2 separate regions of the Homo sapiens genome follow, and region 1 is linked to region 2. Evidence: fine-mapped expression QTL. A gene starts in region 2. The other region holds a variant in brackets. All regions are shown on one strand. Distances are from middle to middle.

Evidence for each region. PIP is the estimated chance that this variant, and not a neighbour inherited with it, causes the effect. A credible set is the group of variants that fine-mapping cannot tell apart.
Region 1: its variant is the best candidate, but not a certain one, in a credible set for the expression of GUCA1C in prefrontal cortex (CommonMind, PIP 0.73).

The regions. Positions count from the first base shown.
Region 1 is chr3:109,136,081-109,141,468 of GRCh38, forward strand. C3orf85 (chromosome 3 open reading frame 85) reads left to right here and starts at 639. Exons shown (of 4, transcript NM_001351622.2): 1 at 639-661; 2 at 764-816. The coding sequence starts at 768. The variant T/G (reference allele first, on the strand shown) is at 2,554.
Region 2 is chr3:108,951,190-108,956,577 of GRCh38, forward strand. GUCA1C (guanylate cyclase activator 1C) reads right to left here and starts at 2,690. Exons shown (of 4, transcript NM_005459.4): 1 at 2,370-2,690. The coding sequence starts at 2,573.

The sequences.
Region 1 (5,388 bases), 180 kb after region 2:
AGGCGCATGCCACCGCATCTGGCTAATTTTCGTATTTTTAGTACAGACCAGGTTTCACCATGTTGGCCAGGACAGTCTCGAACTCCTGACCTCAGGTGATCCACCTTGGCCTCCCAAAGTGCTGGGATTATAGGTGTGAGCCACCACACCCAGCCAATAATTATTATTTTTAATAGTTATTATTATGACTGCTGGTAGTAATCCACGGTATAGATATATCACGCTTTAACATTCAGTTGTTGAATGACATCTGGCTTGTTTTTAGTCTTTGCCTGTTGCTAATAAAGCTGTTATGAACATTCTTCTACAGATTATTTCTTAACGTTAAGTTTTTATTTCTCTGAAACAAAGGCCCAGTAGTGTAATTGCTGGGTTGGACAGTAATTGCAAGCTTGAATTTTTAAGAAACCACCAAACTGTTTTACAAAGTGACTGGAAAATTTTACATTTCCACCAGCAATACGTGAGTGATCCAGTTTTTCTACCTTTTTTTAACATTACGTTAATCTATGTAGATGGTAAAATTAGTAAATAAATAAATTACCCACATAAGAACAGCCTGTAAAAAGCCAGTTCAAAAAGTCCAAAGGGTAAAAAGGCAAGAGGTGTATAAAAAAGCCACCTCAGCCTCTCTCTGTGTCTCAGCTCACAGGGCTTCCAGGTATGCAACAAATGCTTTATACTTCTGAAAAGTACCTGATATACCCTAAGGCTTTTTCCAGCTAAATTAAAGTAAATAAATCTTTTTTTTTTCCCAAAATAGGATCATGGCCTATAAAATGCTTCAAGTAGTCCTGTGCTCAACATTGCTTATCGGTAAGAGCCTATTTCTTTTTTATTTATCATGTCTCCTACAGCCATCAGGTTGATAATTCCTTTTGTCTTCTTAAAGAAATGAACAAACACGTTTTTATCCATAGGCCTATTCTATAGCACTGGGGAAACCAAACTATTGTAGAAGGCTGTGGTTTTGAACATGTTAATGTTAACTGTGTGTGTGTGTGTGTGTGTGTGTGATCATTTTATTTCTAATTATATATTAACATGATACTGTTGCTAAGAAGCCTAATTGCTGCTGCCTCCAAATAAGTGCTGTTGTGTCCTTGAACAAAGAAAATTTTAAAATATCTTTCAGAAGTATAATACTTAACATAGTACCATTATATGAAGACCTCAAAGTACTTTGGGAACATGAATTTATTAACCTTTAGGGCAAGCTGTAGCTCAAAGTGGTGCTTTAAAGGCAGATCAAGGAAGGCACCAGAGGCCAGGCGATTTGCTGCCAAAATGACCCGGTAACTCAGTGGCTTCTATCAAAATTGAACTGAGAGGTCATTTGTTTTGCTTGTAACAAAAACTGAAAACACTTACAAAGATATAAATTATCTTCATGGTTAAATCTCTATAATTTATAAATATTTCTGATGCAGATGCTTAAATTAGAATAAACTTTTGCTTCTATGAAAATCTTGAGACTCATGCACAAAAATTATATTTTTCCTGAAGCCCTTCCCACACACAGCTAGATAGATGTATATATGTGTGTGTGTGTGTGTGTATATATATATATATATATATATATATATATAAAATAAGCCTTCAATTCCTAAACATAGAAATAATTTTAATAATGAGTTTTAATCATAAATATTGCAATTTGCTGTTGGGTCATGTTTAAATATGTGATTGAAACATTTTTAGCCAAGTTATTATTAAGCAGTTATAACCAAAGCATATACAATCATACACAATTACAGCCCACATTGCCAGATGAAGAAAGTGAGGCTGGCTCAGTTTAAGTGAGTGTCTCAGAGCACATTGTAATTTAAAGACATTAGCTGGTTATAACTCACCAGTGTAATGCTTTGCTTTGACCACTGATCCGTGCAGTTGACTTTAGAGGGGGTAACGGTGGTGGATGCCTGCAAGGCTAAAGCAATGCTGGCTGGTCCACATTCACCTATGAATGCTTCAGGGTCAAAAATATTTGACAAAGGAAATGGTTCTGCAAAATTTTTAAAGAGGCTTCAAAGACTTTCTTAAGAAACAAGTTTGAATTTACTTCAACTCCAACTGAGATACAAATATGTCTACCTATAAAGACAACTGGTTTGATTGACTTGACTCTAAAAAAAAATAATAAAGTTATCTAGTTGAAGTTTATGAAATAGCAAGTTGAGAACTAGAAACTAAGGACAGAGGTGTATGCACACTGCTGGATTAGCCCTTCAGATCTCAGGAAAGAAGGCTTCACTGCTTGCAGATTGAGGAGACTGATGCCTTCAGAACTGGATTCATTCATTACAATAACTGGTTTAGCTGACAGTTTCTACATCATGTAGCTCTAGAGAAGAAAGTAGTAGCTTGAATGAACTTTCTTTGCTTCTTTTCCTCCACATTTTCTTTTAAGAATACAGCCTATTCATCTGTACTTCTCTGAAGCCCTTCTGCTTATTATAAGAAAACCACTATTTTTTTTTAAAGTTTATTTTCATGTTTTTTAAGTTTTCTCTATTATAGCTTAGTCGTCCAACAAATTACTTTTCTTTAGAA[T/G]TTGATTTAAGGGAGGTAGGGAGAAGGTCTCATTTATCTATTTTCCTGATGGGAATGCTGAGGCCAAAAACAATGAAAGGCCTTATCCAAGTAATTAAATTTATGGGCAGAGTTGACAAGTTATTGATTATTTTCAAAACAGTAACTTATACGCATTGGAGCTGATTCTCTAGTCAGAGAATTAGAAGTTCAAGTGTTGTGATTTGATTTAAAAAATAAGCATATAAACCTGTCTTGAACATTTAGGTCAAGAATTGCCTTCTTTCAGAAATGAAGGAGAGATAAAGAAAAAAAATTTTAATTGCCTTCTTCTATAATGAAATCAGCAAATATTAATGCTACTAATTTAAATTCCTTTTATGTGTCAGGGACTTTGCATAGGCTATCTTAGTCAGTTCTCATGACCACTCTGAAAATACTAATAGATGCTATGCTCCTCATTTTACAGAAAGAGGGAACTGAGGGCTTAGGGAATTCAAGTGACCAAGCTACACAGTCAATCAATGGTAGAAGCTGCATTCATGTCCTAATCCTACATCTACCACTTATGAGAACAAAACTCTTCTTTCTGCTACACAAACTCTCCCCTCTGGCACTGCAGTGACTGACATGGGCTAGCAGCAGCTCACAGAGCAAGACGTCCTCTTGAAAAAGTGGTAGAGGCAGTATCATAGCCGTTGCTTCCATAAGAAACAACCAGGAGTTAAGAAGCTGGGTGACCTTACCTGACAAAATTGAGCAGAACCAGGACACCACCAATGACTTTCAGTGACAGTTCCTAGTTGTACTAATGGTGAAGAGTAGCAACAGGGCATTTATTAAAACCAAACAGCTTTATATCACATACAAAGGAAATATGGAAATATGGAAAAAAAACAAATTTGAAAAGTGTTTTTCTAAGTGAACCAACTTTTGAACGCTATTAAGATTTATACTGGGTTTTTTTTGTTGTTTCTCATTTGTGTATTTTTTTAAAGGATTGCTTTCATTCTTCTGCTAAAATGAAAAATAGATTTATTTTCCCTTAGCAATCATGTTCTCCTGATCAGATTTGGCAGCTGGAGTTGACCCATACACGAAACGATTTGGGGGTCCATGCCCATATTGTTGACCTGCGATCAGATCTGTCCATAAAGTGCAAGTATGTCTTCTGGTTTTAGACAGGGAGAATAATAAGCTGCCTTTGGTCTGTTTTTCCTCTGGTAGTTCCACCTCTTATTTTTCACTCCACAGTTAGTAACCAATGCCAGTTTGTCTTGAAAGATTTTTGATTTGCTTTGTTTTTTGACAAGAGCTTTTAAGCTCACATATTCTAACACACAACCCTGTCAGCATCCCCAATCCCTTTCTTTTTGCTTTCTTCTCTACCATAGGAAGACTAGCCCTTTTCAGTCATCCCTGCAGCCCTCCAATTCCTTAGAGATTCTGTATTCTCTGACACAGTTTTGGTTTATTTTTAAAGATTTTGTTCTTAATTTTACCTACTCACTTGGGCTTATGACTGATTGATACTCTCAAGAAGATACATAATGAGAATAAACTGGAAAATAATTTGGCTGGAAAAAAAAATGTTGTTGTAGGAAAATCCAGGTTCTTGTCATGTGACCAGGAAAGATTAGGTTCGCAGACACTTTGAAGGGTGAAGGGGACGGAATTTATTGGACGAAAAGGAAAACGGTAAAACAACACAGCAAAGTAGGAGAATGGTTCCTGTTAACAGGCCCTCATTTCACAGATTGAATCCCAGGTTCCTACACAGGAACAGGAAGGGCCAGGCCCCTCCCCGCTGCAAACGGCCTGAGCTTCCGTGGGTCCACCCCTTCTCCCAGTGACCAGGCTGGTCGGAGGTTCTCCTGGGACCCCTTTATACTTGGTTGTCTCAATGTCATTGCTTATGACTAGATTCATTGAGCAGTCTGGGTGCTGTAGAAAAACTGTTTTCCTACACATATGGCATCATCTGTCATATGTATATGGAGATGGGGATCCCATCAACACATGTAGGCAATGACCCAGAAAGAGTCACTATTGAATCAAATACAATGCTGCCTTTCATGAATTATGAATTTCCATGTCTACAAGATTAAAAGTAATAAAAGAACCACCAGCTCCAAAAACATGTCCAAGGAAATTCTGTGGCCATAAGAGTGAGTGCCAACATTGTGTATGTGTGTTAAGAGCAGGTTAGAACAGATTTAAGTTAAACCCAAGTGACACCACTTCCTGTTTACTTTCCAAAATATTCAATATGTCAGCAATTGTAATGCCAGTAAAGTGGAAGTTACTGAGTTAAAAGGTCAGTTAGAAAGCATCCTGTTAGACCTTTGTTTTTTTGTTGCTGTTGTTTGTTTTGTTTTTGTTTTTGTTTTTTGAGACGGAGTCTCTCTCTGTCGCTCAGGCTGGAGTGGAGTGGTGTGATCTCAGTTCACTGCAACCTCCACCTCTCAGGTTCAAGCGATTCTCCCGGCTCAGCCTCCTGAGTAGCTGGGATTACAGGCATGCACAACCATGCCTGGCTAATTTTTGTATTTTTAGTAGAGACGGGGTTTCACCATGTTGCCCATTCTGGTCTCAAACTCTTGACCTCAGGTGATCCACCCACCTTGGCTTCCCAAAGTGCTGGGATTATAGGTGTGAGCCACCCCACCTCGGCCCCTGTTAGACCTCTGAACAGGACACTAGGATATGAGAGCCGGTCAGCAATTCAGCACCCCTCTCCATTTTTTCCAGTTTCCTTTCACCCTCTTTGCCTTCTGTTGTGTTACTTCCTTTATCTGCCCTGTGGCTTTTCACCTTTTGTCTTTTGTAAACCCGCTTCATTTTTCTATCTTTCCT
Region 2 (5,388 bases):
GAGGAACAAGTCTGGAGATTCATCACACACCATGAGGACTACAGTAATAAAATTATACTTATACGCAACTCATGCTAAATGAGTAGATTTTACTGCTCTTGCCACAAAGACCAAAAAATGGGTAATTATGTGAGATGATGGATGTTAATTTGCTTCATTACAGTAACCCTTTTTCCTATCCATATGTATCTCATAACATCATGTTGCATACCTTAGACATACACAATAAAATTCATTTTAAAAATAAAATTTAAAAAATAAAGTCGAACTTATAAAAACACAAAGAAAAAAAGAAAACTGCAGAGAAGCTGCATAGAAATAGTAAATCTTTGGGGATTCTGGACAGTTGCTAGTTTTATCAATTCATCTAATTAAATATATGACTTTTCCTGTGCATAATTGCACATCATTTCTTAGTATCACTTGATAATGAACAATCCTTACCCTTGTCATTTTACCACCTGATTTTATATTGAGATCCCCACACCTTTTGTGGCATTTGTCATTACTGCTTAGGCTCACTTCCTTCCTAAGCAAACATAAAATCTCTTTGATGAATAGCAGCAGAACTTCCAAGCCATCTAAATTAAGCTCCTGGGATGGGTCGGGCCATTCCTGTGGTGGACACTGAGAGGGCTCTCACACCAAGGACACACACACACCTGTTTGGACATTGTCCCTGCTTCCTTGACAGTGGGCTTCATCTGACAGCAGATCCTTGCTTCCACCCAGGACTCCTTTCCACATGTTCCCACTCTTGCATGTGAACCACTGACATGTACAATGCGTTCACAAATACTGGGCTAGCAACCTAACGGCTGGCATGGGATATGACATCAACGCCTTTGGATAATAACTGTAAAACTCGATAGCTCATTTTCTAACCTCTCAGGAGTACTTAGAGCCTAAGAAGCTGCTGTCTAGAGCAACAGACTTTCATCCTGATATTGGGCTGCTTATAGCAGCCATACAAAGAGTGAAGCACAGAGAATGACAGAGAGAAAGAAAGAGAAAACTGAGATTGAGAGCTGAGAGAGACATACACAGGGAGAGGCAAATAAAGACAACGTGGCATCATGCTTATAGTATCTGGAACACACTTCCAGGATTAATAACAAAAGCGGAATCTGTCACATTTTCCCACTGATTTGTCAGCTCCTTGAAGATCGCCTTTTGCTTGCATTGACACTAAGTAAAATTGATGAGGAGGAAAGCACTGTCATGCTGAACAGGCAGTGCTTAACTCATATTTGGTAACAAAGCACAAAAGACCATACCATAATGTCCTAAAGAAATCTGTTCCTGACATTGCTACAAGGATTAAAACAGCTGTTAATTTTGCACAGGTTTAATCTTCCCAAGTTCCTGCCTGTTACCTCCTTTTAAGTCACCTGCTTCTTGGTTTAAAGTATTTTGCTAAATTCTACACATCCTATCAAACAACCAGTTTTTTTTTTAATTTTACTCAATTTACCTCCCCTTCTTTCTCTTCTATTATCAGTTGGATGGCCTTCTAAAGTCATTATTTTCTATTAGCATTTTCTCTGTTCCTTTTTATTCTAGTCAATATCTACACATTTTGAAATATACAAATCTACAGTAAAATAACCAAAATAAACAAGTAAAAGCAGGCAGAACCTGAGCCTGATATTTCAGGTTGTTGCTTTTTTGTCTCTCTTTTTTTTTTCAATTCCATATATTCTTTTCTCTTCTTTGTATTTTTTCAAGAAATGAAATTAAATGCACTACAGCTCCTCAGGAATGAGTAAATTCAAGATAAAAGTTGAGTAACAATCTTTAGAAACAAAAATTTGTCTGAATTTAAAACTGTTAAGCTTCCATTTTTCCCAAACTAAATTGGTAAACTATGGGGAAAAAAGTAATATGAAGCAGTTTAACTTTTGATTTGAGTACAGACAACATGTTGGCTAATTTGTATTGATTATATCTGCCAATCTAGATGCAATCACACTTTTAAAAGCAGAGTCCTGTAATTTGCTTTTCTATAAAATGTCACCAATGCATTAAATACTTCGAAAACAGTCTTTGTAAATCAATCTGTACTTATTAGATTTATTTAAATGATAGCATTAGAATTCCATGCCGAGATTTAATCTGGTTTTAAAATAACTCCCTACATGCAGAACACTTCCTAGGGTGGGAGAGGCTAGTTCCCAATTATTTTCATGCCGTCAGTACTAAAAGTATTTAATGACTCACTTACCTACAAGCTGTGAGTTGCCTGAAGACCTCTCCATTCAGTGGGATGTACACATTTTACTTAAGGCTATTTTACAGGAAAAAAAAAAAAAAGGGAAGAGTGCAGAACCACAGCATTTTCAAATGAAATGAAAAATGAAAGATCTTACCTTGTTCGTGTCAAAGGTATTATAAACTTGATCAATATGTTTATTGGCCTTCTGATTCAGACCTTGCAGACCCAAAAGTGTCTTAAATTCATGTAGTGTTTGCAGGCCGGATGGATATTCCATCATAAATGTTCTGTACCACACATGGGTCTCTTGTGTAGGAACTGCTTTCTGATCACCAGCTATAGATTTGCCATTCCCCATCTTGACTCACAGTCTACAGCTTTTCCTCAGGTTGTTTTCACTTAAGTTTTTGCTGGATTTAGTCCCTTACTCCTCACTAAAACTGAAGGCTAACATATGCCCTCAGAAAGCTACTCTAAACCTCTTACAGCAACAAGCTAAATAAGAATAGAAAGCCAGTGAGATTAACTTATCTGCCCAGTTTTAAAACCAAGGTCACTTGGCACTTGGTAACTAACATGCTTACAGTCATGCAGAGACATAGTTTTTTGTGAAGGGAACACGCAATATTTTAGAGAGGGTGATCCTTGTTATATTGTTAGCCATAAATTTTGCCTACATTATTGAGTGGTACAGTGGGTCTAATGGCAGGAACTTTGAGTTGCAATCAGGAAGCCTAGATTCTATGCTTTGTTCTACCACTTATTAACTATATTGAAACATTACTTACATTCTCGTGTTTCCTCATCTGTAAAACAGTAATAAAAGTTTCTGCCTTTTCATACCTGAGTATTGTGAAGATATATTTAGATAACATTTTACATGAAAAAATCATACATTGAGTATTATTAAAAAGAAGTCTATGTATAAGAGAGAAAAATAGGTAAAGAGAATTAAATAGTAGTAAGAAGAACTTCAGATGTAGTAGTCAGATAAAGGAACATATTGGGCTGTGTCTTCTGGCAGTGTTCTTCCTTTCTCTCCCCCACCCTCTGTTCTTACCTTTTTCTGGTCTCTCAAGTATCTACACATGCCACTGGCCTGCCAGCTTTATCTCACTCCAGTTTTCTAATCTGGCTAATCTTGTCCTAACCAAGCCCCATTTGCCAATGAACTTAAGAACAGGGTCAATGGACCTAAGAACTGTATCCAAGGTCCAGTAGTGGAAATGAATGCTTTGTGTGGTCCTCAACCCATTTTGGTACCAACCATACTTAGAACCAGAAAACCCCAGGTAGAATATAATTCTGTTACCCCTAAATTATAGTTCTCCTTTTTTTTTTTTTTTTTTTGAGATGGAGTCTCGCTCTGTCCCTCAGGCTGGAGTGCAGTGGCATGATCTCAGCTCACTGCAAGCTCCACCTCCTGGGTTCACGCCATTCTCCTGCCTCAGCCTCCAGAGTAGCTGGGACTACAGGCGCCCGCCACCACGCCCAGCTAATTTTTTGTATTTTTAGTAGACATGGGGTTTCACCGTGTTAGCCAGGATGGTCTCGATCTCCTGACCTCATGATCCGCCTCAGCCTCCCAAAGTGCTGGGATTACAGGCACAAGTCACCACACCTGGCCTACAGTTCTCTTTTCTAACCTCACTCAATTCTTTCTTTTATTTTCATTTTGGCCCAGCTCATATATCTGGTCTCTGTCTTTGTCCCTATTCCTTAGTCCTGACTGATTACCTGTTTATTATGAAACCCTTGATTCCTAAGAAGTAGCCATCATGGCCTAAATGAACTGCCTTGACCAGAAGTGGTGGTGGTTACAGTGAATATGGTTAATTTTGTTTCAAACATATCAATGTAGACTCTCAATGGGACATTTCGATGTCATAATTAGAGTTAAATAAAAGGGCTGGGCACAGTGGCTCATGCCTGAAATCTCAGCACTTTGGGAGGCCAAGGTGGGTGGATCCCTTGAGGTCAGGAGTTCGAGACCAGCTTGGGCAACTGGTGAAATCCCATTTCTACTAAAAATACAAAAATTAGCCGGGCATAGTGGTGCACGCCTGTAATCCCAGCTACTCGGGAGGCTGAGGCAAGAGAATCAGTTGAATCCTGGAGGCAGAGGTTGCAAGTGAACTGAGATTGTGCCACTGCACTCCAGCCTGGGCGACAGTGAGACTCTGTCTAAAAAAAAAAAAAAAAAAAAAAAAAAAAAAAAAAAAAAAAAGGTGAAAATAAGGTCATAGAATGTAAAACTCACCCATTTGAACCCATTTGAAAGAATTACTTGAAACCATTAAAGTGAATGATACTCTTTTTTGGACAGTAAAAAGGACAAAGGGGAGACAGTGAGGACTCAGCCTCGGGATTATTCAGCTAGGAATTAGAGAAATATCCTGCTAGAATTTTCAAAAAGCATTCTTTGGGGAAGTCCCCTTTAAGACTGTTTCTAAATGTCTGCCAGAGGATGCTCAGAGGTGCTGACTTTTTATCACCATTAACATTTATTAATCACTAATTTTTAAATTAAAGAAAAAATGGATACAGATGATGGCAGAGGAAGGTAGTAAAAGTTTTCAAGGAGGCAGGAAAATCCTTTGAGGAAGGAAAACTTTGGATGGATCAAGAATATAAGGACCTGAGATCCAGAAACTGTTTCTTCATATAAATTCTACTTTAAAGAAAATTGGCCAAGCGCAGTGGCTCACACCTGTAATCCCAGCACTTTGGGAGGCCGAGGTGGGCGGATCACCTGAGGTCAGGAGTTTGAGAGCAGCCTGACCAACATGGTGAAACCCAGTCTCTACTAAAAATGCACAATTAGCCAGGCATGGTGGCACGGCACCTGTAATCCCAGCTACTCGGGAGGCTGAGACAGGAGAATCGCTTGAACCCGGGAGACGGAGGTTGCTGTGAGCGGAGATCGTGCCATTGTACTCCAGCCTGGGCAACAGGAGTGAAACTCCGTCTCAAAAAAAAAAAAAAAAAAAAGAGAAAAGAAACAAAAAGAAAACCTGCATAATGATCATTTGCTGATGCAGAAAAAAACTTTAAAATTATTTGTAAAATGAGAATTCTTATATTGAATACAATATTGTATTAAAAAATCAGGAGTCTTGCTGTATAGAACATTAGCCAGTCATAAGATCATGGGAAAAAGCCTTCATTCATGA